Linked DNA regions of Homo sapiens. The protein of the gene in region 1 purifies or fractionates together with the protein of each later gene. This does not show direct contact. Each region holds a gene or a part of one and is shown on either strand. Other genes may lie near its edges.

The links. Proteins that work in one complex are often made in the same cells at the same time.
Region 2: the proteins of STX17 (region 1) and ANXA3 purify together in Homo sapiens (affinity purification with mass spectrometry; one large-scale study listed by BioGRID and IntAct). This does not show direct contact.

Annotation. Positions count from the first base shown.
Region 1 is NC_000009.12:99,958,654-99,962,153, reverse strand, and holds part of STX17 (syntaxin-17), read right to left. Parts: intron 2,238-3,500; coding exon 2,122-2,237; intron 2,050-2,121; coding exon 1,999-2,049; intron 1-1,998. UniProt on the Homo sapiens protein: SNAREs, soluble N-ethylmaleimide-sensitive factor-attachment protein receptors, are essential proteins for fusion of cellular membranes.
Region 2 is NC_000004.12:78,607,270-78,610,769, forward strand, and holds the end of ANXA3 (annexin A3), read left to right. Parts: intron 1-2,786; coding exon 2,787-2,846; 3' UTR 2,847-3,178; downstream 3,179-3,500. UniProt on the Homo sapiens protein: Inhibitor of phospholipase A2, also possesses anti-coagulant properties. Also cleaves the cyclic bond of inositol 1,2-cyclic phosphate to form inositol 1-phosphate.

The sequences.
Region 1 (3,500 bases):
TAGTAAGAAGCCAGTATTGAGAAGCCTAGAAATTATATTGTAGAAGGAATGCAAAAGAAGCAAGGGTTCTGAAGAGAAGAAAATATGGTGGGGTGGGATAGAGTGAGGAAAGATGATGGTTTCAAAACCTTGAAAGACTTTCATATGGAAAGAAGGCAAAATTTGTTCAGTACGTAGCTTTAGAGGCCAAAAATGCCAAAAAGAAGTTATTATAGGGCAGACACTTTTAACTCTAACCCTTCTAAGAGTTAGACCCTCCAAATGCAATAGTTTAAGTATCAATATCCTTGTGCTGTAATTGTTCCAAAAGAGGCTAAAAGACCATTTATTTTAGAAATTGGGGCAAGAGTAGAGGGATTAGATTAGTTGGCCTCTTGAGTCCTTTCTCATTCCAATTCTGATTGTGTGATCTAGGAACTTCTCATTTAAAATTAGATCTCAGGGAAACCGTAACTCAAAGATAACCCCAAAATCATGGTTAGATCAGAAACAAAGAACTAAACCTAGACAGAACTGCAAGCAGAAACAGGTATGCCTGTGTGGACACACATACATAAATATACATACACACGTATTCATACATCCTACCTTCCCATAACTCCTGAGAAAGACAAAAAGAACAATTTAGAAAAATGGTGGAAAATCTATCTTTCCCAACAAATTGACTTTGTGCTTCCTAATCTATGTTAACAGTATCACTGACACCCAATTATGCAGAATAAAGACAATGTTCCTTATCTTTGGCTCCATCTTCCTCCAATTTCTGTTAAGTCCCCCAGAAATATCTCTCAGCTGTCCTTTACCTTTACACTGGTATTGCCATTGCTCCAGGTGAACTCTTGCAATTGATTCCTAACCAGTCTTCCTTTCCATGACCTCCTCCTCTCTTAGGCCATTATTCACAAAGCCAACAGTGATCTTTCTGAAGCACAGACTGAATTGCATGACTCTAACCTGCTCAAGAATCAGTATTAGGCTTTCTAATGCCCACAAAGTAAAGTTCAAATTCTTTAGCATGGCATTCAAAGCCATCACAATCTGGCCCTCACCCTCCTTGCTTGCCCATGGTACCTTATGCTTTGGTTATACTGCAGTACTTGTCAATCTGGAACAGGCCATACACTTCTCTACTCCATGTCTTTGTTCAGCTTCTCAAATATACTCCATAACTTCCCCCAGTGGATATTTACTCATTTTTCAAGGCTCATACAAATACTGTCTACCTGTGTGAAGCTATCCTTAATGCTTCTTTCTACCTTATGACTCCTGCCTCCTTCCTTTGGAATTAAATGCTTTTCCTTGGAGCTGATAATACCTCTCTTCATTCTTGCTTTTGCATTTAGCCATCATGCTTGAAAGCTCAGTTTCTGGGGTCCAGGCCTATCTCCACTCACTGTAGAATGCTCAAAGGCAGCAGGGCGTGGTGGCTCATGCCTGTAATCCCAGAACTTTGGGAGGCTGAGGCGGGTGGATCATGAGGTCAGGAGTTTGAGACCAGCCTGACCAACATGGTGAAACCCCGTCTTCACTAAAAATACAAAAACTAGCTGGGCATGGTGGCACGTGCCTGTAATCCCAGCTACTCAGGAGGCTGAGGGAGGCAAATCGCTTGAATCTGGGAGGCGGAGGTTGCAGTGAGCCAAGACTGTGCCACTGCATTCCAGCCTGGGCGACAGAGTGAGACTCCGTCTCAAAAAAAAAAAACACAAAAAACAAGAATCTTCAAAGGCAGAGAATGGGCTTCATTTATTTCTATATCCAACCTGACCACACTCTCAATGTTAAGCATCTAACACACTGCTTGTATATAACAAGTGCTTAATAAAAGTTTCTTGAATTAATCTGGAATTTGAGAACAGTTAAACTTCTATCTATGGCTTAATACCAGTCTTAAAAATTATAAGTTCTATTAAAATTCTAATTAAAAGCCTAGTGATTATAAAAGCTTCTCATTCTAATAATCCAACAATTCTGCATCCAAAACAGTTATATACTTACATTCACTAGGAGAGAGAAGTCAGTGACCAGTTGGCTAAGTTCAATTAAGTCCTTTAAAAGAAAGGGAGAGGAAGTTACTTTTATGCCTCACAACTACCAAAAAGAAAACATTTTTTAACATACCGCTTCTAAGGTTTCCCACGATTCTGCAGCATTTTGATCTTGAGGAATTTCAGGTAAGGCATATATCTGAGTCAAACTCTGAGAACTAGCTTCAGCTTCAGTAGTATGAAATGCTCCTGGATGAACATAATAACCCCATGTTTAGAGTTTATTTGCTTTGTTAGAAAAGAGACAGCATAAATTGATTTCATAAAACAAATGCCACGTTAAATGGTGTCTAATTAAATTTAGGCTAAAAGGAAATTGATTATTCTACAAAAATAGAATTGTTTGGCTGGGTGCAGTGGCTCACACCTATAATCTCAGCACTTTGGCAGGCTGAGGCGGGAGGACTGCCTGGGCCCAGGAGTTCAAGACCCGTCTGGGCAACAGAGTGAGACCTCGTCTCTACAAAGAAATTAAAAAGTTAGCCAGGTGTAGTGGCACACACCTGTAGTCCCAGCTACTTGGGAGGCTGAGGTGGGGGGATCACTTCAGCCTGGGAGGTCGAGGTTGCAGTGAGCAGTGATCACGCCGCTGCACTCCAGCCTAGGTGAACAGAGCAAGATCCTGCCTCAAAAAAAAAAAAAAAAAAAAGATTTATCCATAGGGTAGCTTGTTCCCCAGATTAGTTAACACATTTTTTTTTTCTAAAATTTTTTTTTTTGTTTTTAATTGACACACAGTCTTGCTATGTTGCCCAGGCTGGTCTTGAACTCCCGGCCTCAACTGATCCTCCTGCCTCAGCTTCCCAAAATGCTAGAATTACAGGCGTAAGCCATGACACCAAGCTTACACACATATTTTTTTAATCTACACAGTCATTTAAAAAATGGCTACAAATACTATCTATCCAATCTGAATAACTAGGGCTAAATGTGGAAGAAGCACCAAAAGAAAACTATTCTACTTGGCCAATGTTCCAAGGAGACGTACCTATATAAATAGGTTTAATATTTTTCATCCTTAAACTTCTATTTGGCTATTTCAATGTAAATACCAGATACAGAAGGTGTTGAAAGCAGGGAAGTAATATATTTTTATTAATGATAATCAGTCACTATTGGTAATAATAAGATTGTCACCAAACATTACCATATGTGTCTTTTTTGTCACTACTCTTCTCCTCAATCTTCTGGCCCATGACTCCATTGCTTCTACTTCTTTTGAGTTTTAAAAAGTTGTCAACCCAGTAGGACTTTCCCCATTAAACACTGCTATGATGATGAATTAATTCACACTTTAAAATCTACCTTCAAGTCTTTATTTCCTCATATTGGTTTTACCAATCATTCATTCATTGAGTTGACATTTATTAAATGCCTACTACCTGCTGATCAGTGTGCTGAGGTGCTGCAGACACAATGGCAAACCATAAAAACAGTTCGGAGGAGGCAACA
Region 2 (3,500 bases), on another chromosome or scaffold:
TTACATTTTTGCTATTGAAGAACAGGATCTTTTTAGATGGTTGTTTCTGAAATTCATGGGATAGAGTTCCATTTTGCATATCATCTCAGCCTGTCATCCTGCCTGTTTTCTTCCTTCCACCTATTGTTTAGACATTTCTTTGTCCATTGACACCTTTCTCAGGGGGTAACCGGTGGGAAGGAGAAGGCAAGGAAGAACAGAGGTGAAAAACCAATGTGTACCTCTTACTACTTTATAAGAAGATATTATGGAAAATTTAGATGAAATTATATTTTTTGGTAGTTTTCCTTCATAGACAAATTCTGTATTTATTTAATAAATAGCACAATTCCAAGCTTTTTATGGGAAAATATAGTAGCCACTCACAATCAACTCATAATCTATGTGGAGACTTGAGGTAGGTATGAAGAAACAATTAGAAGATAATAATTGAAACAACAGACAATTAAATACTAGATTGTTGAATATAGAGCTAGTACTATCGGAATTGAGAAGAAAAGAAGTTTGGGGTTAGAGAAATGGGTCTTGAGCCTGCCTTTCAGGTCAACAAGCATGTGTTGAGTGTCTCCTGTGGGCCAGGTGCTCTGCTGGAGCATTTACCTTTAAGACCCCAGATCAATAGGGTCTTAAAAGTAAATGCTCTAGAGACAGATATGGGAAGAAGCAAGAGGGAAAGAAGTAATAAGGCATTTGTTTGATTAGAGGGTCTACCTTGGGGAATATTGAGAAATAAAATCCAAGTAGCAAGATGAGTTCAGTTGAAAGAGAGCTTTGAGATCAGCGAATTCACTCATTCAATTAAAAATATTATCAAATGCATATTATGTGCTAGGCTCAGGGTTACAATTATAAGCAAAGGGGGTAGGGTGGGGGAAGACATTTTCTGCCCTTATGGAATTACAACTATGTTAAATGTAAAGGAAAGTGACATTGTGCTAAAAGATCCTACAATAGTAGGACTTGACTTAGAGGAAAGGCTTCTATGAGAAAGTCATGATTCAGATCTGGAAAATAAGTAGATATTAATAAGGCAAAATGTATGGAGGTAAGGGAGCCAGTAGAACATTCTAATAAAAGAAATGACAAATGGAAAGGCCTCATGGTGGAGGAAGCATAATGAAAAATGAGGATGTGGGGGCCAGATCATGCAGGACCTTTTTGGCAATGTTTAAGGAATTTTGGCTTTAGCTTAAGAGTAAGGGGAAGCCATTGAAGAGTTCTGGGCATGAGCTCTTGAAGAGTTAGTATCAGGATCATGAAAAGATCCCTGTAAGATCTTCTTATTCTGGAGAATAAGAAGGGCTCAAAAGATATTTAGGAGTTGAAACTTAAGGGACTTGGTATAATATCTTGGTGTGAGGAAAGGAAGATAGCAAGGATGACACTCAAGTTCCTAACTTGGAAAACAGACAGTGGCGCCATTCCTTGCAAGAGGATCAGGTTTTAGGTTGTTTGTTTGTTTGTTTGTTTCCTTTTCTTTTGGGGGAGTGGGGGGAGGTTTATGAGTTTGGTTTTACATGTATTGAGTTTGAGATGTCTTTGAGCCATGTAAGACATGTGGAGAGGTCAAGTAAGTCATTAGCGGTGTAAATATACTTTGAGTTACTTGGATGTATTTTCTTGACTAACTGGTAGAACGCCTAATTGTTTACAACTCTGATCAGAGATGTCTAGAAGGAGCTCTTTTAATACAAAGCTGGAGCATTGTTGACTTGTCAGCTCTGCTATTGCAGAGCAAGACAGGAAAACCAATAGCATAAGAACTAAAATCTATATAAAAACGAAGAATATTGTCATATATTTTGTGAAACAGACAAATGAACAAGAAATAAAGAAAACAGAAAAATATATATAAAGGCCTATTGTGTCTTACTATGAAAGTAATGCTTAACTTCTTCACTAAATGAGCCTTCTCTGAGACTTCCTTTATATTACCACTTTCTCTAATATTCACCCCAGTAACAGCCATTCCAAATGTGAAACTTAAGTGATAAGAAGAGCTCACTGGTTGGGTTACCTCAAATAAAATAAAAATAATGTGAGCATCTTACACAATCCAGGTTGAAAGCCAAGTTTTACCTCCTGTGAAGTCTTTTGCGTTACAAACTTGGTATCTTTGCCCTTTAAGCCTCAACCTCACGTAGTATCTTTTCTGGACAACAGTCTATTTTTGGTTGGCCTTGGGAAAAGGAACTGATAAACATATTCTTTAAAAATGTGGTTCATTTCACTTTCCTAAGTTAGGCAGTGTAGCAGGGTATTAAGGAGCCAGGATATAGGGATTCAAATCCTGCTTTTGTCACTTATTCTCGATAAGATTTGAGGCAAGTTTCCTAACCTGTCTTTCTCATTTTACTTATCTGTTAAATGGGGGATACGTATAGTACCTATTGCAGAGAGCTTTTAAAAGGGTTAAAGTAGTTAATACACATTAAGCCTTTTGAATAGCAAGTGTTCGATAAATATTATTAAAACTAAAATTTGAAGTTTTTATAGAAATCAATATTATGTAAGTGATGCAATCTTATTTTATTAAACCAAAATTGAAATTTAACTGCAGTATATCAGGAAGAATCTAAATATTACTTACAGTGAAGAAGATGCTGGTCAGAACGTAATTACACTCAGGTATGAATGAATGATGGAATTGCAGGTATGTTTTACTAAATGGTATAGCTCATGAGTCTCACACCCAGGTGAATTCCCTAGTGCTATAGGATTTGATTCATTTATGGTCTCCCATTATTTATACTGTATTTGTTCTTCATTGATTTTATTCTTTGCAGTCGGATACTTCTGGAGACTATGAAATCACACTCTTAAAAATCTGTGGTGGAGATGACTGAACCAAGAAGATAATCTCCAAAGGTCCACGATGGGCTTTCCCAACAGCTCCACCTTACTTCTTCTCATACTATTTAAGAGAACAAGCAAATATAAACAGCAACTTGTGTTCCTAACAGGAATTTTCATTGTTCTATAACAACAACAACAAAAGCGATTATTATTTTAGAGCATCTCATTTATAATGTAGCAGCTCATAAATGAAATTGAAAATGGTATTAAAGATCTGCAACTACTATCCAACTTATATTTCTGCTTTCAAAGTTAAGAATCTTTATAGTTCTACTCCATTAAATATAAAGCAAGATAATAAAAATTGTTGCTTTTGTTAAAAGTAATTTCTTTGTTTGCTTTCAGAGCTTGCCAACATTGTTTGATGCCTGGTGCCAACAACTAATATTTTAAAACATGTTTCTGTATAGAAGCTGTTACTGCTTCAGTTTATCACCTTGTTAATCACACTTTTTTGAAAGAAAGGAATAAGATGAAGATGTATGTGACCCTGGCCTACCCTTTGTAGTTGTGATCAAGCTATAGGAGTGGTAATGCATGATAAGTTATTTCAGCTTTCAGAAAACATCTGCTGAAGGATTAATCTAACCACTTCCTGTCTGAATGGCAAGCATGAATTATGGTTGCTTCATGCTAAATACTAC